Linked DNA regions of Homo sapiens: regions 1 and 3 are each linked to region 2. The links come from fine-mapping of genetic effects on gene expression. A gene starts in region 2. Each other region holds a variant in brackets. All regions are shown on one strand. Distances are from middle to middle.

Region 1 (7,811 bases), 24 kb after region 2:
CAGGCTGGTCTTGAACTCCCGGGCTGGCTCAAGTGGTCCTCCTGCCTCGACCTCCCAAAGTGTTGGGATTACAGGCATGAGCCACCATGCTTGGCAAGGCATACTGTATTTAGAACAGAAGGATTGTTTAAAAAATAATAATAAATTTTATATATATGTATATATATATATAAAATCTCCTAACAACTCATTTAGATATATATATATAGATTTGGATGTATTAAGAATTGTTACTCCTTTACAGAATCAACAGATACTGTCTATATTTGATAGGAAGGTATAAGTATGCTGTCTAAAGCAATGTCTTTTACGATTCAATTAGATACCATATTCATGACACCCATGTATCTGTATTAGCATTTTTTTAAAAAATATTTTTCTTCCTTTTTCCTTTCATTTAAACATCAAAAAAAAAAAAATAGAGACAGGGTCTTGCTATGTTGCTCAGGCTGGTCTCCAACTCCTGGCCTCAAGTGATCCTCCTGTCTTAGCCTCCCGAGTAGCTGGGATTACAGAGGCATGAGCCACTGAGCCCAGTGATTTAATATTTTTCTTTAATTTGACTCACTTTTTCCCTCACTCTGGTAGGTAGACACATTATTATTTTTTTATTTTTTAGACAGAGTCTCGCCCCGTTGCCCAGGCTGGAGTGCAATGGTGCGATCTCTGCTCACTGCAACCTCCGTCTCCCGGGTTCAAACGATTCTCCTGCCTCTGTCTGCCAAGTAGCTGGGATTACAGGTGCCCGCCACTATGCCCAGCTATTTTTTGTATTTTTAGTAGAGATGGGGTTTCACTATGTTGGCCAGGCTGGTCTCGAACTCCTGACCTCAGGTGATCTGCCTGCCTCAGCCTCCCAAAGTGCTGGGATTACAGGCGTGAGCCGCTGAGCCCAGCCTATATTTTTTTCTATTACGCATCAAAACACTTATACATGTAAGTTTAAAAATAGTGTTTATCCACGTACCACGGGTAGTTGTGTACCACACTCTGATATGCGCTAATTTAGAGATGTAGAAATAACACCAAAAGAATAAACAGAGATTGTCTCTGGGCATGGGACTAAGGGATGGGGAGACTTGGTTTTCATCAAAAGCACCTCCGTGTATATGTATTGCTTTACTAAACATGAAACATTTAAATTATACGTAAAACAAAAATTCTGTCACACTGAGTCACTTATACTCTACCTGGCAAAATGGTAGGCACAAAATAACTACTCAGAAATATGTCTATATTTCACACCTCCTCCCTAATGATTTTATAATTTCAGCCATATACTCATGCTGCTCAAAACTGTCGTTCATGCACACAATTCCATTCACAAAGTTTGAGGAAAAAAAAGACAGCTATCCACTGCAAAATGAAAACTTTCAGTGTTTTATTTTTGACTGCAGCTGTTTACAGAAATATAGTTGCGAGTATACAAATGTTCCAATAGAAGCAAAATATCTTTTTAATATTTAACAAGTTATCACAGATAGCTAAAAACATAGATGCAAATGAAATTCCCCCAGAGAACAAACTGAAAATATCTGGTATCAGTGCTCTGAAATCCCAACTATGAAAGCCATATACACAAAAATGTAACCCTTATATCATTGCAGGACAATGGAAGAAGGCAGTTCAGTGGTTGATCAGTGTGCTCAAGCAAATAAAATTAAATAAAAATTAAAAATGGCAGAATGGTAGCTAAACCACTTGAGAACAGGTTAATGAAATTATTGGTACTATACTTAAAACATTAAGTAAAAGAAGTGAATGAAACTCATTTAAAGTTGTCAAAAAATTAGCAACTACTTGGAGCTTATCAATTAAAAGGAAACAAGGTAAGCAGACACATTCATTAGATCAAAAGAAATTAGATCAAGTTCACTGGAATCAGTCTGTAACTACTCAAGTCACAATGACTTCAGTGCAGGAGTTTTTTACTGGACACAGAAGTCTGATTCCAAGCCCACTCTTCAACAGCTGAGATTTTGTGTGCGTGTATGTATGTGTGTGTGTGTAGACGTTGTCCTGAGGTTCATCAGCTAAAATAATATAATAAGCAATCCCTACAAAATATTTCAAACCAGGCAAATGACTTCTGGAAGAGAGAGAAAGGAAGGGGAGAGGGAGGGAGAATATGAGTAAGCAAGCAGGGTCATATGGTTAAACATGGAATTTTTTAAAGGAGTTATTACAAGTGGGAGTCAAATAGAACTGTGGTAGAATGCTTTGGGTACAGGAATATGTTATGCAATAAAGTGAGGAAGAGAAAAAGGGAATAAGAAGGGAGGAATGTAACTAGAGCAGCTCCCAACAGTTTGCCTATGTATTTGCCAGCACCAAAATTTGTAGAGTAAGCCACTTACATTTCCACTGCTAGTATTAAGGAAAGACAGCAGTGGTGATTTTTATAAAGTGAGTATACATTTATTTTTATTCTGATATGTGAATTTTTCTTTCACGAGTTAATTAACTGGTAATTTGTAAACAGTGGGAAGAAGATTAGAACAATTATGGAGGTACTGAATTACACAAGGAGATTAAAATGAAATGAATCAATCTACCTATCTTGTGGTTAGTTTATATTTACCATGATGCATACACTTGAGAAACGAGAAATGCCCAAATTGTATAATGCATTATCTTGTTTATTATTTATTTTAGTAAATAATTCTTGTCTGAAACATAAGCTCCAAGGATAGCTATATCTATACTGATAGCTTAGTTCTTATACAAAGCAAGCTACTTTTGAAGAAGTTTTACCTATTAAAAAAATAAGTTAAGGTGCCATGTTGACCTGGCCAGCCATCTTGTTTACTATCTCAGATACAAATATAAATACAAGGAATGATGATTTTGTTCTGAGGGTTGGTCTAGCCAGGGCAAAACTGTGGTCTGCTGGTAAAGTACTAGGCAATGAAAAGAAAGCTTGTATTACACTGCCCATAATGTACCCATTTTATGGATAAACAGGAGACTTTAGCACCGGTCAATTATATTAGCTACTTAAATGTCATAACAATTAAAATAAACATAGAACATTGCACCTATATATTTAAATCAGTCATTTAATGTAAAC[C/T]TTTTAGTAAGTGGTAGGAAAATGCCAAACTAAATTAACTGAATTATCAAGAATTAGACTAATTGTGTATGTACATAAAATACACTGTATCTCTATAGGCAGTACTGAGAATTAACTTTTGCCAATAAAAGATTATAGATAACCAGGTTAAGCTGAATTTACATGAAGAACAATGTATAACTATATCAGTCTGAGTGGAAGAAAAACTCTATATCTCAACAGAGTCTTAGCCCAGTGGTTCCTAAACTTTAAAGTGTGCATCAGAATCACCTGGAGGGCTTGTGAAAACAGATTGCGGGGGCCCTATTCCAGAGTTTCTGACTCAGTATGTCTGGGATGGGGCCAAAGAATTTACATTTCTAACTAGTTCCCAGGTGATACTGATACTAGCTGGTGGGCTGAGAACCATACTCTGAGAACCACTGGTTGCACATACTACATATGTAGAAAAAGATATATTGTAATGTTCTTATATACATGGCACAAAATATATAGACAACTGGTTTTAATGAATTCCCAAACATGTAGGTTAGCAAGCTGAATGTTTCTAAAATGTGACGTTTCTAAAATGATGTGCTAAAGCATAATTATTTCCCCTTATAAGTAAATTACATTTCAAAGTCTTAAGTCCTATATAGTCATTTTAGAAAAATCCATATAACATTTATACCAAGTTGGCTATCCAAAAGAAAAGGGACATAACATTCTAAATAGTTAAGATGAATTCATTAGGAAGGAATCATCACTATACAGCATTCTTGGCTTCTTTGGAATGATTAAAGTGCATAATATCAATAGGGTATTAAGAATATTGCATAAAAGTTTGCAGTCCTCAGTGCCACTAACAGTCACAGAAATACTAGCACGGGGAAAGCAGCCCTATCCCAAAGGTAGAACTATCCTGACCTGTTGCTGATGATCCTTTCTTTAAGCACCACCGCTGTGGTAAGGAGCTGGAATAGAGGCAAAATTAACAAAAACCAAGGCACTCCATCTGACTGTATCTGATCAAAAGGAATTATCTTAGGTCTGGAGGGAGTCAGATATAACCTTTTTCTCATTTCCTTTGACACTTTTTGTCTAGGTAAATTAACTGAGGATAGACAAGAAGTACACTAACATAAACAACTTTGCCCTGTCTAGTTAAAAAAAAGTGGCATAATCAGGCTTTACCTAAACTATGTTTTAGTGATTTATTTCCATCTAATTAACATCAGAGAAAATGCTTTCAACACTTTCTTCCTGAAATTTACACACATCTGGTGCATGGAGTTTCACAGATGCTAAAATTCTCATGAGTATTCAGATAAGACCTACCATTAGCTGGTTGAGATGAAGACAAATTTAGTTTATATAAAGGCTGAACAGTCTAATTCTGTAATCTTTTACCCTCTCCCAAAGAAACAATTCTAGCAATGTACCTTTTCTTTTATTCTTAAGCCAAAGGGAAGAAATGGAGAAAAGAAGGTTTAAATGGAAAAAGTAAAAGCTGGGACCTACTGAAACTATTTGTTTATGTGTTTTTGGAAATAGTGAAAAATGAAATTATAAATGATAAAAAGGCACTTTTCCATAGCATTAGATCTAGATATAAAATATTAATTTAAAAAATTTCCTGAAAGAGAAAGTAAAAACATAATTTTATTAATAAATGAGGCTAGAATGGCATAAAAATAAATGGGGATTAAAGAAGTAATTAGGCCGGATGTGGTGGCTCATGCCTGTAATCCTAGCACTTTGGGACGCCGAGGCAGGTGGATCACTGGAGGTTAGGAGTTCGAAACCAGCCTGGCCAACATGGCAAAACCCCATCTCTACTAAAAAAATACAAAAAAAATTAGCCGGGCCTAGTGGAGGGTGCCTGTAATCCTGGCTACTTGGGAGGCTGAGGCAGGAGAATCGCTTGAACCTGGGAGGTGGAGGCTGCAGTGAGCTGAGATCGCACACTGCTCTAGCCTGAGAGACAGAGCAAGACTCCATCTCAAAAAAAAAAAAAGAAGTAAAGTAACTAGAGCACTGGGACCTGGGACCATCCACAAATGATATTGTAGATATTATTCTGATATTTACTGCATTATGAGCATTATCTCTACAATTTTGCTCTAGTGACACAAACAAGCAGAGAAGAAAACCTCTTTTTAATACATGTTATGAGATTCTACTAACCCACTTACTAGGGTATATACTATGAGTTATTTTTCTAACCTATGGTCTTTCTTCATGGAGTCCCTCCACACAGTCTAAGGCATGCAGATATAAGACAGCTGTCTCGGTTAGGGATAAAACCTGTGGTCATAAAGCAGAGGAAAGCTAATTAATTTAAAAAATCTATTAGGAAACAGATATTGGAACAGAAATCTTCATCAGAAAAATGAAAAATTGTAAGATTACTATTTCTGGTGAAAATGTATAACCATGGTGATTTGAGACTTTAATTATTAAATCGTTTTGTCCTGGTCATTATTTGTTGATGCATCTAACAGATTCACTTTCCTAAAACAAGCATTTATAAAGGCTTAAATGGTCAAAACGCATTTATAAAGGCTTAAATGGTCAAAAAGAATTATCTTAGTTCTGGAGGGACTCAGATACAACTTTCTCATTTCCTTTGATACTATTTTTCCTAGGTAGATTAGCTGAGGTTCTGATGAGCAAGAAATGCACTAGAATAAAATTCCAAACTACAGCACATGTGATATTACAAAAAATAAAAATAAAAGGCAAGGAAGGATGAATGGAAGAAAGGAAGGAAGGGAGAAAGGAGGGAGGGAGGAATAAGGGAAGGAGAAACAAAGAAGGCAGGGAGGAGGGGGAGATGGAAGGGAAGAAGGGAGGCAGGGAGGGGAGGAAAGGGAGGGAGGAAGGAAAGTCCTTCATTAATACTTCTTCTATAATAAAGCCCTTAAAAACTTGTTCTTTTTTTAAACTATTTGTTTTAAAACAGATTTGCATTGGCTAAATAACATGATACTTTAATCATAAAGGTAACATGATCAAGCTTAGAGGCAAAATATGACTTTGAATTATCGTCACCCATGTTGGTGTGGATATATAATGGAATGACAATAAGGAAACACACACACACACACACACACATACACACACACACACAGAGAGAGAGAGAGAGAGAGAGAAAGAGATAAGCTCCAAGCATTAATGTGAGTTGCTGAAAGCAAGAACACTTAAATGTAACAATATAAAGAAGAAAAGGTGGCTCACAGTTTATTTAGGTCCTTCTGCCATAAATACATTTAATAAATTGTTGTTTCTATGGCCTTTGCTGGCTCACTGAGTCTCTCCCATATGTAGCTATAACTTGTAACAGTAATCAGGAAATTGCATTATTAGCACAAATATCAACCACTGAGCTTCAAAGAAGATGAATACTCTTCGTAGCCAAATTGTATTTTCAGAATGTTGTACTTAACATTGACCTTTAGGGGTAAGGAACATTTAACAATGTAAAAAAAACAACAAACCTATTATTATTGAACAAGAATATGGTAGCATAGCACAGCCCTTGTATAAATAACCACAAAATTTATGAGAATAAAAATCGGGTTTTCTGTCTCCATCCGATCAAACCACTACAGTTCAGGTATATATTCTGTTCTAAACTTAGATATTATAAAACAGAAAATTGGTCCCAGTGACTTGGCATTGCCAATTAGCATTTGATAACAATAAACCTCTTGCTAAACCACAGAAGTCAGCACACAAGCCAGTCGCCACTTCATCCACAGTGCAGTATTAACAATCATCCTAATTAGAACTTGAACAGATAGATTTCTTTAGTCTCCTATGTAATCTCTTAGAAAAAAGTTCAGAAAATTCAAAAATAACTTACAGATTTGTATTTATACTACTTTTTATACCTGCTGGGTTTGCTTTGTCTGAAATTTCAACCAACCCTACTTTAGGGTTAGAATTTTACATTTTCAAACTGAAGCACTGGATTGTGTGGCTGATCCTCCTCATAACCTGAACTATACTGGGTAATTTTTCCCAATAGGGGCTGGGGGAGAAGAGATACACTGAGGAAAATACTTTTGGTTCAGAGAATTTATAAAGTAGCTCTGGATATTACAAGATGGGAAAAATGTTATTAAAATTACAAACATGGGTTTTCTTAGTGTCTTTATAAATAAAAGGCATAGAATACAGAAAGCCAATTAATAATAACAATAACAACAATAATAAAATATTAAATATATAGTGAGCAAAGACTGAATGGCTCATTCTTGTGAAACACCATTTGACGCCATTGCCTCAATGGGTTTCCTGACTCTAACACTTGGCTGAGTGAAAGCTCCAGCAAACACACAGTAAGCTGCCTTTAGCCCACTACTGACATCAAGGAACTAACTGCCTGATGGAATGGCCACAGATGAACAGGTCATTTGTTTCAAAAGATACTTAAATACTCAATAAAGACATAACAAACCCCACCCCCCCTCACTGTTATCAGACGCCACGTTGTGGTAGAACATCAGACAAACTCACAAATTTACCACAAAAATGTGTGGCAAAAAAGAATAGTTTATATATATGTATATATATAAATTTCTATATTTATGCCAATGTACTCACTCAGTACAAATAGCAAAATAGTATACCATTTCCTAAATACAAAATATAGCTTTCCAAAAAAATGAAACACACATTAGATATAAACCATCCAAAACTTGAACGATTGAAAACTGTATTCAAAATTAAATGACCCAGAGTAGGTCTCTTTCTG
Region 2 (7,811 bases):
TCAGCGGATTTTAATAAATACATACATCTGTGTAACTACCGCCACCATCAAGTCGCTCTCTTCTTCACAGCCCCCACTCTGTCTCCTCTCATCATGCTTTCCCAACCTACATCAATCCCTCAGACTCCCCCTCTCCTGGCACGCCTGGCTGCAGACCTGCAGGAGAGAACACACACGCCGACCTGCTGGAAACCTGTACATCAGTACTGCCCTCCCGAGGACCCTCGGTCTTTGTCCAGGCAGCAGTGCTCGCCCATGCTCCACAGCAGCTTTTTCTTTTTCTTTTTTTCTTGAGATGGAGTCTCGCTCTTGTTGCCCAGGCTGGAGTGCAGTGGCACAATCTCAGCTCACTGCAACCTCTGCCTCCTGAATTCAAGCGATTCTCGTGCCTCAGCCTCCCGAGTAGCTGGGACTGGAGGCGCCCACCACCACACCCAGCTCATGTTTTTGTATTTTTAGTGGAGACGGGGTTTCACCACATTGGCCAGGCTGGTCTCCAATTCCTGAGCTCAAGTGATCCACCCGCTTCAGTCTCCCAAAGTGCTGGGATTACAGGCCTGAGCCACTGTGCCCGGCCAGTAAGTTTCTTTTTTTCTTTTGAGACAGGATCTCCCTCTGTTGCCCAGGCTGGAGTGCAGTGGCATGATCTTGGTTCACTGCCACCTCAAATGTCTGTCTTTACCACTGTGTAGTAACAAATTTGGCCAGGAGTGGTGGCACATACCTGTAACTCCAGCACTTTGGGAGATCAAAGCGGGAGGATCACATGAGCCCAGGAGTTTGAGACCAGCTTGGGCAACATAGTGAGACCCTATCTCTACCAAAAAAATAAAAAAAAATTAGCCAGGCACGGTGGCATGCACCTGTCATCTCAGCTACTCAGGAGGCTGGGGCAGGAGGATTGCTTGACTCCAGAAGGTCGAGGCTGCAGTGAACTATCATCATGCCCCTGAGCCCCTAAATCCCAAATGATAGGAGTGTCCATCTTATTCATTGTGGGCTTCTCAGACCACTCCTGATGGTTTATGCTAATGAGATGACTTGGGATGGGCCCCTATATAGTTCATGTTAACAAGATGACTGAGGATGGGAACTGGCCATGCTGGAAACCAACGACCGAACACGACACTTGAGCTTTGTGGCTTTGAGCCCCACCTCTGGATGGGTCAGGGAGACTGGTGATTGAGAAAACAATCTCACTAGAAGAGTGAGAGATAGAATAGCCAGCACACTGCGGCCTCGATCTGAACCAGCTCAGGTCTTTCCAAACACTAGTGACATGTGGCTATCTAAATTTAATTAAAGCCAGGCGCAGTGGCACATGCCTGTAATCCTAGCACTTTGGGAGGCCGAGGTGGGCAGATCACCTGAGGTCAGGAGTTTGAGACCAGCCTGGCTAACATGGTGAAACTCATCTCTACGAATAATACAAAAAGTGGCTGACTGTGGTGGTGCATGCCCGTAGTCCTAGCTACTCAGGAAGCTGAGGCACAAGAATTGCTTAAACCCAGGAGATGGAGATTGCAGTGAGCCAAGATCCTGCCACTGCACTCCAGCCTGGGCGACACAGTGAAACCCCGCCTCAAAAAATAAATTTTTAAAAAATTAATTTAATTACAATTAAAACTTCACTTCCTCAGTCCACTGGCCACTTTTTTTTTTTTAATTTCCATTTTTTTTCTTTTATTGAGTCCACCACTGCGGCCTTGAATTCCTGGGCTCAAGCGATCTTTTTGCCTCAGATCCTGAGTAGCTGGGACACAGGCGCCTGCCACCACGCCTGGCTGCTGGCCACATTTCCAGTGCTCAATAGCTACTTGAAGCTTGTGGCTACCTTACTTGGGCAGCACAGATAGGGAAAGTTCTATTGGACAGGGCTGCCTACCTAGCCCTTTTTTAAAACGTCCTTTTATACTATTTTGTCAGATGGGGTCTCACTTTGTTGCTCAGGCTTTTCTCAAACTCTTGGGCTCAAGTGATCCTCCTGCCTCAGCCTCCCAAAGTAATTTGTAAATACGTGTAAATAATATAGTCCTCTCTTGTTGCATCAAAATGAATGCAAAAATGTCACGATGGGGCCGGGCGCGGTGGCTCATGCCTGTAATCCCAGCACTTCGGGAGGCCGAGGCGGTAGGATCACCTGAGGTCGGGAGTTGGAAACCAGTTTTCTGGTGCCTCCTTAACTTTTGCACTGGAGGGACAACGGAAGGGCCCTGTGTCATCCTCACCTCCCCCATCTGTGATTCTTCTGATGGTTAATTACCACTTTAAAGCTCTAGTTCTTTTTCCTTCACCTACTGAGAGTATATCTCCTTCTTTACAGTAACTTTTACTTTATAGAGTTTTTTTTGAGACGGAGTCTCACTTCGTCACCCAGGCGGGAGTGCAGTGGCACGATCTCGACCCACTGCAACCTCCGCCTTCCGGGTTCAAGCGATTCTCCTGCCTCAGCCTCCCGAGTAGCTGGGACTTACAGGCGCCCGCCATCACGCCCAGCTAATTTTTCAGTACAGACGGGGCTTCACCAGGTTGGCCAGGCTGGTCTCGAACTCCTGACCTCAGGTGATCCACCCACCTCGGCCTCCCATATTGCTGGGATTACAGGCGTGAGCCACCGCGCCTGGTCCCGTTTTGGCTATTCTTTAATATGCTTCCCTATAACTGCTATCTCCACACCAGCCTTGCCTTAGCTCATGGGAAACAAAACCAATTAGTTCCCCCATTACCTGCCTTGAGGAGCAGGGGTGGTGCAGTGGCATGCACCCAGGGAAGTGTGTTGTATGGGCCCCCAAGTGCAGAATCTGAATCTTGCAAAGGAAGAAACAAATTCGTCTCCACGGAGCATGTCTCCCCAGGACTCTCAGCCTTCCAAATCCGCAGTCACAGTGACTCAGCAGAATCTGAGCCTAGGGCACCACAGTAATCCGCATCCGGCTCTTTTTCTGCTCCATTTCGTGCCAAGGCTAAAAGGGCATGCCCACTTGATCCCTGGACTCTCTTGGGACGACTTCCACCCTGCATCCTCTTGCACCTCAGGGCACAGTGCGCAGATGGGCTTGCCTTAGCACCCCCAGCCAGATTTTTGAGGCCTCTGTCACACACACCCCTACAATCCCCTCCCCCAGCCCCGAGAGACTTTTCTTGACTTCCACCAGTTGCTCCGGCGGGTGAGAGTGGAGAGGCCCCTCCTTCATCCCCCAGGCTCCCTCCCTTCCTGGAGCTGCAGCCTCAGCATCCTCCGCCCAGCACCCCAGGATTCAGGCGTTGGGTCCCGCCCTTGTAGGCTGTCCACCTCAAACGGGCCGGACAGGATATATAAGAGAGAATGCACCGTGCACTACACACGCGACTCCCACAAGGTTGCAGCCGGAGCCGCCCAGCTCACCGAGAGCCTAGTTCCGGCCAGGGTCGCCCCGGCAACCACGAGCCCAGCCAATCAGCGCCCCGGACTGCACCAGAGCCATGGTCGGTGAGTGCTGCAAAGGGCGGGGTGCTTGGCGGTCGTCTCTCGAGCACTGGTGCCTGTGGAGGAGGTTGTAGGGGCTTGGCCCTGAATTTTGTTCCTTGACTCAAAACCCACAAAGGGAAGAGATTAGGGACCTGGGATGAGCCTTGATCGGACTCCGGGAGAAGGAGAGCTTCTGTTTGTATCCGGTGTCGCGGATCCTTCCTCACTCCACCCCACGAACTCTAGTGGGCATTTAGGAGAAACTTGACCTTGGAAGCAGAAATTCCCTCCAAAACTGTGGTCAGAAACTGGCCGTCAGAGGCCAAATCAGGCTTACGGTCACAGCCCATACCTCTTTTGGTCTATAGTATCTAAAACACTTTGAAATAAGTTGCTAACATTAAAATGGGTGATTTCACTTAAAAATGTGGATTCCGAGCTTCTGAAGAAAATGAGAATATCTGGCGATTGGTGGACAGGAGTGGAGGAAACTGATGCCTTTGGTTTGACGGAGACCAGAACCGGCTCCAGGCTGCCAGGCACAGGTTTTGTTTTGTTTTGTTTTGTTTTGTTTTGTTTGAGACGGAGTTTTGCTCTTGTCGCCCAGGCTGTAGTGCAATGGCGCTATCTCAGCTCAGCGAAACTTCCGCCTCCCGGGTTCAAGCGATTCTCCCATCTCAGCCTCCCGAGTAGCTGGGATTACAGGAGTGCGCCATCATGCGCGGCTAATTTTTATATTTTTAGTACAGACGGGTTTCGCCAAGTTGGCCAGCGCGGTCTTGAACTCCTGACCTCAGGTGATCCACCCACCTCAGCCTCCCCAAGTGCTGAGATTACTGACGTGAGCCACCGTGCCTGGCCTTGGGAGGCATTTTCCATTGAGGCCCTTGGATTAGGCAAACCTGATCAGATCGTACTGGATCCGTTTCTAGTATTGGGTCCACTTCAGTGATAGAGCCTTCCCACTCGGCCATCGACCCTAGGGGAACTCAGAGGTCACCCCAGCTCCACCCAAGGCATAAATAACCAGCTGAGACAACTGCAGGGATTGAGAGCTGTTTCCCAAATAATCTCACTCTGAGATTGGACAGTACTAAGATTTAGAAAGCTGTTGCCTCATCTGGGGCAGAATCCTGTGTTTTGTAATTTCCTTCCCTGTGGACCTGGTCCTGCCTCTAAAAATGCGCCTGTACACAAAGAAGCCCATCTTGGTCAAAGTGAGTGGAGGAACAGACTGCCCTTGCAGTTGACAAACTGAAATTATCAGGATCTCTGAGAAAGGGACTAAGCTGGGGATTGGTAGCCCAGCATGAGTTACTGGCAGAGACAGCAGGGAATAGATTCTGACAGCTGAGAGGCTTGCCGCATACACGGTGGTTGCTGTTTCCCTTGTATTTCATTCTTCAGCGTCGAGGCACTGGCACCCTCTCCTCCAATACTAGGGCAGGAACTATTTCCTGACTTTTCAATCTTACAGAATGTTCTGTATTTACGTGTAGCTTAAACACAAAAAAGGGCGGTGGTAATGAGGTGAAAAGGGAAGACTTGGATCTTGTATAATTAGTTTTAGCTGTACCCAGCTAACCAAATCTTGAGGTTAACTAAAGCATCCAGGTTTTTTGTTTGCAACTAATAGATGCATCTGATTTGCACTCATGTTCCCTGGAGCACTCAAGTGAGAAGAGAAGGCAGAAGGAGAATGCATGAAACTGATACAAAGGCTTATCTTTATCATACTTCTTTTTTTCTTTTTGAGACAGGGTCTTGCTTTGTTGCCCAGGCTGGAGTGCAGTGGCATGATCAGGGCTCACTTCAGCCTTGACCTCCTGGGCTCAAGTGATTGTCCCATCTTTGCCCCCGAGTAGCTGGGACTACAGGTGTGTGCCACCACACCCAGCTAATTTTTTTTGGTCAGAGCAGAAGAACTTGAAACCCAGCTAATTAAAAAAAAAAAAAATTTTGGCTGGGAGTGGTGGCTCATTCCTGTAATCCCAGCACTTTTGGGAGGCTGAGGCGGGAGGACTGCTTGAGGCCAGGAGTTCAAGACCAAGATTCAGCTCAAATGGCAAGCTCCTCTGAGGGCCTTTCCGAATGGGCCAGCCCTGAGGTCCTGAAGTTTTCCTCTGTTGAACTTTTTGAGATGGAGTCTCACTCACTCTGTTGCCCAGGCTGTAGTGCAGTGGCGTGATCTTGGCTCATTGCAATCTCCACTTCCCAGGTTCAAACGATTCTTGTGCTGCAGCCTCCCAAGTAGCTGGGATTACAGGCGCCCACCACCACGCCCAGCTAATTGTGTATTTTTAGTAGAGACGGGGTTTCACCATGTTGGCCAGGCTGGTCTCTAGCTCCTGACCTCAAGTAATCCACCCGCCTCGGTCTCCCAAAGTGCTACGATTACAGGCATGAGCCACCACACCCAGCCTTCTGTTGAACTTTGTCCCTTACCTCTCCTAACACACTAATGCCATTGTACCCTGAAGAGGTTATCCGTGTGTGCATCTTGTGGCCTCTCTCAGGGTAAACTCTAATAGTCTAACTCCTCCCAGGTCATGTTGCTCAGCTAGTTAAGTGGCAGGAAGGGAAAATGAACCCTCCAGGGCCCAGAAAACTTTTAAATTGCCTATTCACAAGCATCTTTTTGTTTGTTTGTTTGAGACAGAGGCTTGCTCTGTTGCGCAGGCTGGAGTGCAATGGTGCGATCTCGGCTCATTGCAACCTCCGCCTCCTGGATTCAAGCAATTCTCCTGCCTCAGCCTCCCGATTAGCTGGGATTACAGGCACCTGCCACTACACCTGGTTAATTTTTTTTTGTATTTTTAGTAGAGACGGGGTTTCACCATGTTAACCAGGCTGGTCTCTAACTCCTGACATGAGGTGATCTGCCCGCCTCAGCCTCCCAAAGTGCTGAGATTACAGGTGTGAGCCACCGCGACCCACCCACAACCTTCTTTTGATCATTTTTCTTTTGAGTTGTTTTGGGGATCTACCTATTCCAGGTACTGCACTTTGATGGTTATATTTGTTGCAAATATATTATTCCTGCTTGTGTGTTGCCTTACATGAAAAATTGTAAAGTCACAGGCCTGCTTATAGCTATTAGAGTCTGAGCTCCTTGAAAGAGCAAGAGATGGATATCCTGATTTGCTCATTTTCTGAGAAGTGCCTTGACTGTCTTACTACTTAGAAAATGCTTGTTAACATTGATGAGAAGTCAATAAAATAAAAACTGTTGGCTGGGCGCTGTGGCTCACGCCTGTAATCCCAGCAGTTTGGGAGGCCGAGACAGGCGGATCACGAGGTCAGGAAATCGAGACCATCCTGGCTAACACGGTGAAACCCCGTCTCTACTAAAAATACAATTAGCCGGGCGTGGCGGCGAGCGCCTGTAATCCCAGCTACTCTGGAGGCTGAGGCAGGAGAATGGCGTGAACCTGGGAGGCGGAGCTTGCAGTGAGCCGAGATCGCGCCACTGCACTCCAGCCTGGGCGACAGAGCGAAACTCTGTCTCAAAAAAACAAACAAACAAAAACTGTCAGAGCGGCGATCAGTAAACATTGATAAGACTAATGGCAAGGTAAGTTACAAAGAAAATGCCTGTTAGAGCTGAATATGCTCACTTCCCTCCCAATCATGTTAAATCCATGGGTTAAAGAGGTAGGAATTTGTTGAGGCAGCCTCAGAGCTTCCTTTTCCTTTTTCCAAGCTATCCCAAGCAAGTCAATCACTTCCAGCGCATTGAAATCATCACCAGACACCTATTCCACTGAGTCTTAGTTTTAAGAGTCCAAAACCCTAGGACCAAGTTTGGAAATCCCCTGGTTTGGCATATTGGGCCCTGAAAGTTACACTTCGCTGAATTTAGCCCAAGAGGCACTTGCCTTGCTAGATGTGGTCAATAATAAAAGCAGGAAGAGAGCTTAAGGTTTAAATGTGCCTTTCTAGTTATTTTAGTTATTTCTAGTTATTCAGATGGTGCAAAAAAGTTGCAGATGCCGGCTGGGCGCGGTGGCTCACGCCTGTAATCCCAGCACTTTGGGAGGCCAAGGCAGGTGGGTCATGAGGTTAGGACATCGAGACCATCCTGGCTAACATGGTGTCTCTACTAAAACAAAAAATACAAAAAATTAGCCGGGCGTGGTGGCACGCGCCTGTAATCCCAGCTATTCGGAGGCTGAGGAAGGAGAATCGCTTGAACCCGGGAGGCAGAAGTTGCTGTAAGCCGAGATGGCGCCACTGCACTCCAGCCTGGGTGACAGAGCAAGACTCCATCTCCCCCGCCCCCACCCCCACCCTGCCAAAAAAGTTGCAGATGCCTTCTCTCCCAGCTCCACCCACTGTTCATGGTAGGGTATGAAGTAGCAGC
Region 3 (7,811 bases), 53 kb before region 2:
ACCTCCAGGTTACCAAATCCCATAGCAATTCTCCATCTCCTCTTACATGACTGACCTATTGGCAGCATCTGACACAACTGATCACCCTTTTGTTCTTTAACTGCTTTTTTCCCTCAGCTCTGGGGATACCAGTCCTGCCTCATCCTCCTCCTGCCCCACCTGAGCCTTCTTGGTTGGCTCCTGCCCCGTCCTCAACCTCAAGCAATCAATGTTCTACCTCTTCTCAGTTACCTCATTCTGTCTCAGGCTTTGAATGTCATCCCTCTGTTTGTCTGTTTGTTTGTTTGAGATGGAGTCTCGCTCTGTCACCCGGGCTGGAGTGCAGTGGCGCTATCTTGGCTCACTGCAACCTCTGCCTCCCGGGTTCAAGAGATTCTCCTGCCTCAGCCTCCCTGGTAGCTGGGATTACAGGCACCCGCTAACACGCCCAGCTAATTTCTGTATTTTTAGTAAAGACAGGGTTTCACCATGTTGGCCAAGCTGGTCTCGAACTCCTGACCTCAGGTGATCCGCCCGTCTCAGCCTCCCAAAGTGCTGGGATTACAGGCATGAGCCACCTCGCCCGGCTCCGAAAATTTAATCTTAACAGTATTGAGAGGTGGGGCCTTGAAGAGGTGATTGGATCATGAGGGCAGATTGATGTTACTTCAGGGCTGGGGCCACTATCTCAAGAGCAGGTTTGTTATAAAAGCAAGTTCAGCCCCTCACGTTTCTCTCTAGCTCTCCTGCCTTTCCTTCCACTTGGGATGTGGAGTACAAAGGCCCTTGCCAGGATGTGGGCCCTCCACCTTAGACTTCCCAGACTCAAATACAAAGAATAAATCTCTTTTCTTTATAAATTACCTAGTCTCTTTATAAATTATCCCGTTTCTATTATCCAGTTATAGAAACACAAAATGAACTAAGACACCGTCTAACTCAGAGTAAAAGCCAGCGGGCGCCTATAATCCCAGCACTTCGGGAGGCTGAGGCGGGCGGATCACCTTGTGCTCAGGAGTTCAAGACCAGCCTGGGCAACATGGTCAAACTCCATCTCTCCAAAAAAAATACAAAAATTAGCTGAGTGTGATGGCACATGCCTGTGGACCCAGCTAATCAGGACCACAGAGTTGGGAGGATCCCTTGAGCCCAGGAGGTCAAGGCTGCAGTGAGCCAAGATTGTGCCACCGCACTCCAGCCTGGGTGACACAGTGAGACCCTGTTTGAAAAACAAAAACAAAAAAAGAGTAAAAGCCAAAGACCTGCAAATGAACTTTGACGTCCTATGCAATACCTTCCCCCATTTCCACACCCCTCTCTGACCTCATGGCCCACTTCCTGCTCCCCAGTATCCCCCCACCCTCATCATGCTGTGATTACTGCCACACAGGCCTCCTCACTGTTCAACTATCCCTTGAACGTGCAGACAGACTCCCATCTCAGTTCTTTTTTTTTCCTTTTTTAAAGCCAAATTTAGCATTCAGGGGTTGTATACAAACTTTAGTGACACTAATGTTAATAAGTTCTGATAACCCACTACCACAGGACCAACCTGTTTTTTTGAGACAGGGTCTAGCCCTGTCACCCAGGATGGAGTGCAGTGACATGATCATAGCTCACTACAACCTTGACCTCCTGGGTTCCAGTGATCCTTCCGCCTCAGATTCCTGAGTAGCTGGGACTACAGGCATTTGCCACCACATCCAGCTGATTTTTTTCCTTTTTTATTAATTTATGTATTTATTTTTTGTAGAGATAGGATCTCACCATCTTGCCCAGGCCAGTCTTGAACTCCTGGCCTCAGGCAATCCTCCCAGCCCCACCTTCCAAAGTGCTGGGATTACAGGCATGAGCCATTTCACCAGGCCAAAAAGATGATGTTTTGACTCACTTAGACTAAATTTGTCTTGGCAAAGCAGTAAAAAGATCAACTCTCTTTGCTACTCATCAGATTAGAAAGAGATGAGAAGCCTGACAATTAGTGTTGGAGAGAAGTCTCACATGCCTGTGGAGGCAGCGCACATTAGATGGCAGCTGACAACCTCCGGCAGAGTTAAAGACGCGTAATTTTGGACCCACCAGGATTCTACTCCCAGGCATTTGCAGAGGGAGAAATTCTCCAACACACACAGAAGAGGCCATGTTCAAGGATGTTCATCATAGCAGTATTTGTAATAGTAAAAAATTATAAACAACTTAAATACCCATCAATGGGGGAATGGATAAATTGATATATTTCTAAAATGGAATGCTATATAGTACCTGAAATATATGAATTTAATCCACATGTACAAATCCCAAATGATAATGCCAAGAGGGGAAAAAAAAAAAAAAGGCAAGTGGCAGCCTTAGTACGATGTCTTTGGTGTACACTTGAACTTACACAAAACAACTGTATACGTTGTTGTTGTGGACACACAAACGTTTAAAAGTATAAAAGTACGACGGGAAGGAACCACACCAAGTTCAGAACAGAAGTTCCCTCTAGGGTAGGGGAGGAGGGAGCAGGGGAATTGGAGTGGGGAAGAGACCAAAGGAACCTCAACTGTATCTACAACATTTTATCTTTCAAAGAAAAAAGTTCTGGGGCAAATATGGCAAAATGTTCATATTCATTAAATCCAGATGGTGGTTTTTATGACTGTTTGTTATCTTCATCTCTAACCATTTTATATGTTTGATCTCTTTCATAATTGAACAATAATTTTAAGGGGAAGCAAAAGATCGTATCTTGAATAATGCAGGAAAGATTATAAATAATTATAAATTGAGCCTTGGGGCTTTTAGTTAACAGGGGTTAAAGCACTAAACGCTGGAAATCCATTATTTACAGACTTTAAAAATGAAAGAATATTTTAGAAATCTTTACTTCTATTGGGACTCTTTCTTTCCTAAGGCAACTCAACTAATGGTAGTTTTTAAACTATCTTGTTCTCCTGAACTGTAGCAGTTTTGAGCCTTTGGTCCTGACTCTTAGAGAATGGAACTTGAAGCCCATACATGGCCTGTTCAACAGAAGAAAGACCAAACTTTTTGATCTACACTTCAGGGCCGCAAAACTAAAACAATCAGATAAATTCTAAAGAAGGCTCAGAAGGAACAAAGGCAACTGGGAAGGCAGGAGAAACAGGGTAGATAAAACATCACCATGTTTTCTTTCTCCAGTGTCTTTTAAAATTGCAGTCCACTGCTTATATAACAGTAATCCATGTTATTCTATAGAGCTTTGTCTGGAGTTCCAGATCTAATGAGCAAGATACCACCCTGACATTATATAATGTAGGCATTTGGAATTGTAAAACCTTTCCAATTGATGCATAAAGAAAAATAACCGGCCGGGGCCACGCACAGTGGCTCACGCCTGTAATCCCAGCACTTCGGGAGGCCGAGGCAGGTGGATCACCTGAGGTCAGAAGTTTGAGACCAGCCTGGCCAACATGGTGAAACCCCATCTCTACTAAAAATATAACAAATTAGCCGGGTGTGGTGGCGGGCACCTGTAATCCCAGCTGCTTGGGAGGCTGAGGCAGGAGAATTTCTTGAACCTAGGAGGTGGAGGTTGCAGTGAGCCAAGATTGCACCATTGCACTCCAGCCTGGGCAACAGAGCGAGACTCCATCTCAAAAAATAAATAAATAAATAAATAACCGGCCAGGTGTGACAGCTCACACCTGTAATCCCAGCACTTTGGGAGGCTCAGGCATGCGGATCACTTGAGGGCAGGAGTTCAAGACCAGCCTGGCCAACATGGTGAGACCCCCGTCTCTATGAAAAATACAAAAATTAGCGAGGAGTGGTGGCGCAACTATAATCCCAGCTACTCGGGAGGCTGAGGCAGGAGAATTGCTTGAACCCGGGAGGTGGACGTTGCAGTGAGCCGAGATCGCACCACTGCACTCCAGCCTGGGCAACAGAGCGAGACTCTGTCTCAAGAGAAATAACCGTAACTATAGAAAGGAACAGATCCCATCCCCATCAAAGTACTTTCGACCTCTCAGCTTTTGCCTCCCATCTTAGACAAGGTTCCTAATGCGTATTAGGTCCAAATCCCCACTATCCACTACAAGAAGCTTAGGAAACCTGAGGCCCAGACTTCACACTCTGTCTCAGCAACACGAACAGATGACTCCGTACACGTACTCAAGTAATTTCTCCCCTGCTAATAGCCATGGAAAGTAATTGCATCCTAATCACTCCAAAACTCTGAGTGAGCATAAGCTTTGCTGGAAGAGGGAGAAGGGGGTCAATGTTTAAAATATAACTAAAGGTTACCAGATGAACAAAGTATTTCATTATTGAAGAAACTAATGGACTTATTGGGAGGGGGATGGGAAAGTCAAAATGTCCCCCTTTACTAAGTCTGGTAGATCTATTGAAATTTCTCAAAAAAAAAAAAATATATATATATATATATATTTATTTATAGTATGAGTGTGTATGTATATATGTGTGTGTGTGTGTATCTATGTGTATGTATATACATGTGTGTGTGTGTGTGTATATATATATATATATAT[T/ATATATATATATT]TGAGACAGGGTTTCACTCTGTCACCCCAAGCTGGAGTGCAGTGGCACAATCATGGCTCACTGCAGCCTCAACCTCCTGGGCTCAAGCAATCCTCTCACCTCAGCCTTCTAAAAGGCTGGGACTACAGGCACCAGCCACCAGACTCACCTAATTTTTTAAATTTTTTGTACAGATGAAGGGGGTCCCTATGTTGTTCAGGCTGATCTGGAACTCTTGAGCTCAGGCAATCCTCCCACCTCAGCCTCCCAAAGTGATGGGATTACAAGCATGAGCCACCACACTTGGTCTCAAAAATATAAATAACATATTTATATATAATATAAATACAAACAACATATTTCCTCTGAACTTATCCTCTACATAAATCTTGACAAGCATTTTAAAAATAAAATACAAACTAATAGGGTAGAAACTATAAAAGTTGTATACCAAACTATAATAAATAAAAAGATTTTTTTAAAAGAAAATATAGGCCGAGCACGGTGGCTCATGCCTGTAATCCCAACACTTTGGGAGGCTGAGGTGGGTGAATTGCTTGAGGTCAGGAGTTCGAGACCAGCCTCGCCAACAGGGTGAAACCCCATCTCTACTAAAAACACAAAAATTATCTGGTCGTGGTGGCAGGTGCCTGTAATCCCAGTTAATAAGGAGGCTGAGGCAGGAGAATTGCTTGAACCCAGGAGGCAGAGGTTGCAATAAGCCAAGACCGCACCACTGCACTCCAGCCTGGGTGACAGAATGAGACTCCGTTTCAAAAAAAAAGAAAATATAAAAGTATATCACACACAAAGGAAAGTATTATTTCACAAAAAGTTTTACCAAATAAATATACATGTATATATATTAATAGGTGCATATATGATATCTCCATATGTATATTGTATATACACATATGTGTATATCCATATGTGTATTGTATATACACATATGTGTATATATATCCATATGTGTATTGTATATACACATATGTGTATATATATATCCATATACTGTTTTAAAATAAATATACATACATATATATACACACACACACATATACTGTTTTAAGATATAAAATGTATGTCTTACTAAAGGTTGCAGTCAAAAAAGCTTGAGACTACTGGTCTACAACAATCCCATCTAAGGTAGGGTTTTAGATTAAACAAACACTACAGAACCTAATAAGCAAATACTACACTAGGGACTAATTTCATTCAGAGAAATGTCATCAGTTTATTATAATTTTTTTTATTTTTTTTTTTTCGAGATGGAATTTCGCTCTTGTTGCCCAGGCTGGAGTGCAATGGCACAATCTCGGCTCACCACAACCTCCGCCTCCCAGGTTCAAGCAATTCTCCTGCCTCAGCCTCCAGAGTAGCTGGGATTACAGGCATGCACCACCACGCCCAGCTAATGTTTTGTATTTTTAGTAGAGACGGGGTTTCTCCATGTTAAGGCTGGTCTCGAACACCTGACCTCAGGTGATCCGCCCACCTTGGCCTCCCAAAGTGCTGGGATTACAGGCGTAAGCCACTGCGCCCGGCCTATTATCATTATAAGTTAAGAAACTTCCCACATCTAGGTAACAATCTCTAGAGCTTAGATAAGAGGCATTCATTCATTTGACAAATATTTATTGAGCATCTATTATGTACTCTGCACTGGTTTTGGTGCTAGTGGTATACTGCTGAATAAAACAGAAGAAAAAATCCTTCTTTACAAGATTATCCTGGTAAAGAGTCAAGAAAGATTCCCTCCTAGCTCTAGTTGTGGGAAGTAACCATAGTGAAATAGGCCCAGAGCAATGGCCTACTCTCCAGGGAAGAAGACTTTACCAGAGCCTTATCCTACCTGGTGGAAGAGAAGTCCCCTGACTCCAGCCCTCTTTAGCCTTTCTGTTTCATCTAAGGGGAGAAAAACAGTTAAATATGAGTGACAGTCATAGCCTGGGACACAGGCCCACTAAAAGACTAGGATTTGACCATGAGGCTATAGAATGCTTCCCCTCCCCCATACTTTGCTGTCACACCAACAGGGCTCCAGTACAACAACAGGGAATTAGGGCTGAAAGGCATACACTCTATTTAAGAAGGAGTTTTTAGGGAAAACCAAAGATAACAGGGGAGACAGAAACAAGGACACTAGAGGAATTTGAAGCCTCAGATACCAACAGTTACAGCAATCATTAAACACAGACCAACTCTTAGCCAGATTAACATGAAACACCATACTAACAATACTAATGGACTATTTATCTCATTTCCTATTACCTAATACATCATGTCCAGCTTTCTTTTTTAAACAAGAACTAGGGAGGGGTAAGGAAGAGGAACTGATCAGCAGGAAGAAGGTCAATGTCTAGCTCTCAATGAAAAATTACAAAACACACTAAAAGGCAAGAAGAAACAGTGTGAAAAAGAAATAAAGCAAGCATCAGAACCTGACTCAGATAGGACAGATTTTAGAATAATCAAACAGGTAATGCAAAATAACTATGATTACTAGGTTCAGGGCTCTAATGGAAACAGCAGACAACACATGAGAATAGATGGGCAATGTAAGGAGAGATATAGCAACTATAAGAGTCAACAGAAAATGCTAGAAATCATAAACACTGTAATAGAAGTGAAGAATGCCTTGATGGGCTCATCAGTAGACAGGACATGGCTGATGGGGTTTAAGATACCTTACCCCAAAACATGACACCTTGGCATTTAAGAAAACAGGAAAAGCAGGAAGTCACTCTCAGCTTCCTCTCACCCTTCTCCCATAAAGCAGGTCATAAAGCCTATGAAAGATTTTCTGACCTTCCCCTGAAACGGGTCATATGACCCTCCTTTGAGAGATGCCCTCCTTATACCCCAAGGAAAGAAATATCCTTCTCTGAAAACAAAAGGACACAGAGAAGAATCTGAACAAATAGGACTTGTTAAATTTCCCCCAGTGTATTACCAGTCAATCATACCCCTTTTGTCCAATCGTATTTCTCCACGATTGTCCACTCTTCATCAAACCTAAACATAAATACACATTATCTGTTTCTCCAGGTCTTAGTCACGTAAATTTATATGATATAAATTTGCATGCTTTTCACTTTTTCTTTTCTTTTCTTTTTTTTTTTTTTTTGAGACAGTCTTGCTCTGTCACCCAGGCTGGAGTGCTGTGGCGTGATCTCAGCTCACTGCACCTCCACCTCCCAGATTCAAGTGATTCTCATGCCTCAGCCTCCTGAGTAGCTAGGGTTACAGGTACATGCCACCATGCCTGGCTAATTTTGGTATTTTTAGTAGAGATAGGATTTTACCAAGTTGTCCAGACTGGTCTTGAACTCCTAG

Which allele goes with the higher level. Alleles are on the strand shown, and positions count from the first base shown. SD is a standard deviation of normalised expression in the study named. Not every link is listed here.
For the expression in lymphoblastoid cells of the gene that starts at base 3,342 in region 2, T is the high allele of the variant in region 3 and ATATATATATATT is the other (large effect, 1.5 SD a copy in GEUVADIS).

The links. PIP is the estimated chance that this variant, and not a neighbour inherited with it, causes the effect. A credible set is the group of variants that fine-mapping cannot tell apart.
Region 1: its variant is the best candidate, but not a certain one, in a credible set for the expression of NQO1 in whole blood (TOPMed, PIP 0.52).
Region 3: its variant is the best candidate, but not a certain one, in a credible set for the expression of NQO1 in lymphoblastoid cells (GEUVADIS, PIP 0.64).

Annotation. Positions count from the first base shown.
Region 1 is chr16:69,698,208-69,706,018 of GRCh38, reverse strand. It overlaps NFAT5 (nuclear factor of activated T cells 5), which reads right to left. Exons shown (of 15, transcript NM_138713.4): 15 at 1,365-7,811. Among named protein-coding and RNA genes, the nearest start is that of SNORD13H, 6.6 kb to the left of the region's middle. The variant C/T (reference allele first, on the strand shown) is at 3,071.
Region 2 is chr16:69,722,091-69,729,901 of GRCh38, reverse strand. NQO1 (NAD(P)H quinone dehydrogenase 1) reads left to right here and starts at 3,342. Exons shown (of 6, transcript NM_000903.3): 1 at 3,342-3,469. The coding sequence starts at 3,463. It overlaps NQO1-DT (NQO1 divergent transcript), which reads right to left and starts at 3,175. Exons shown (of 2, transcript NR_186363.1): 1 at 2,727-3,175. RefSeq lists enhancers at 1,873-2,866, 3,075-3,334, 2,581-3,780, 2,867-3,859.
Region 3 is chr16:69,774,758-69,782,568 of GRCh38, reverse strand. All of the region lies in intron 1 of WWP2 (WW domain containing E3 ubiquitin protein ligase 2), which reads right to left. Among named protein-coding and RNA genes, the nearest start is that of WWP2, 16 kb to the right of the region's middle. The variant T/ATATATATATATT (reference allele first, on the strand shown) is at 4,497.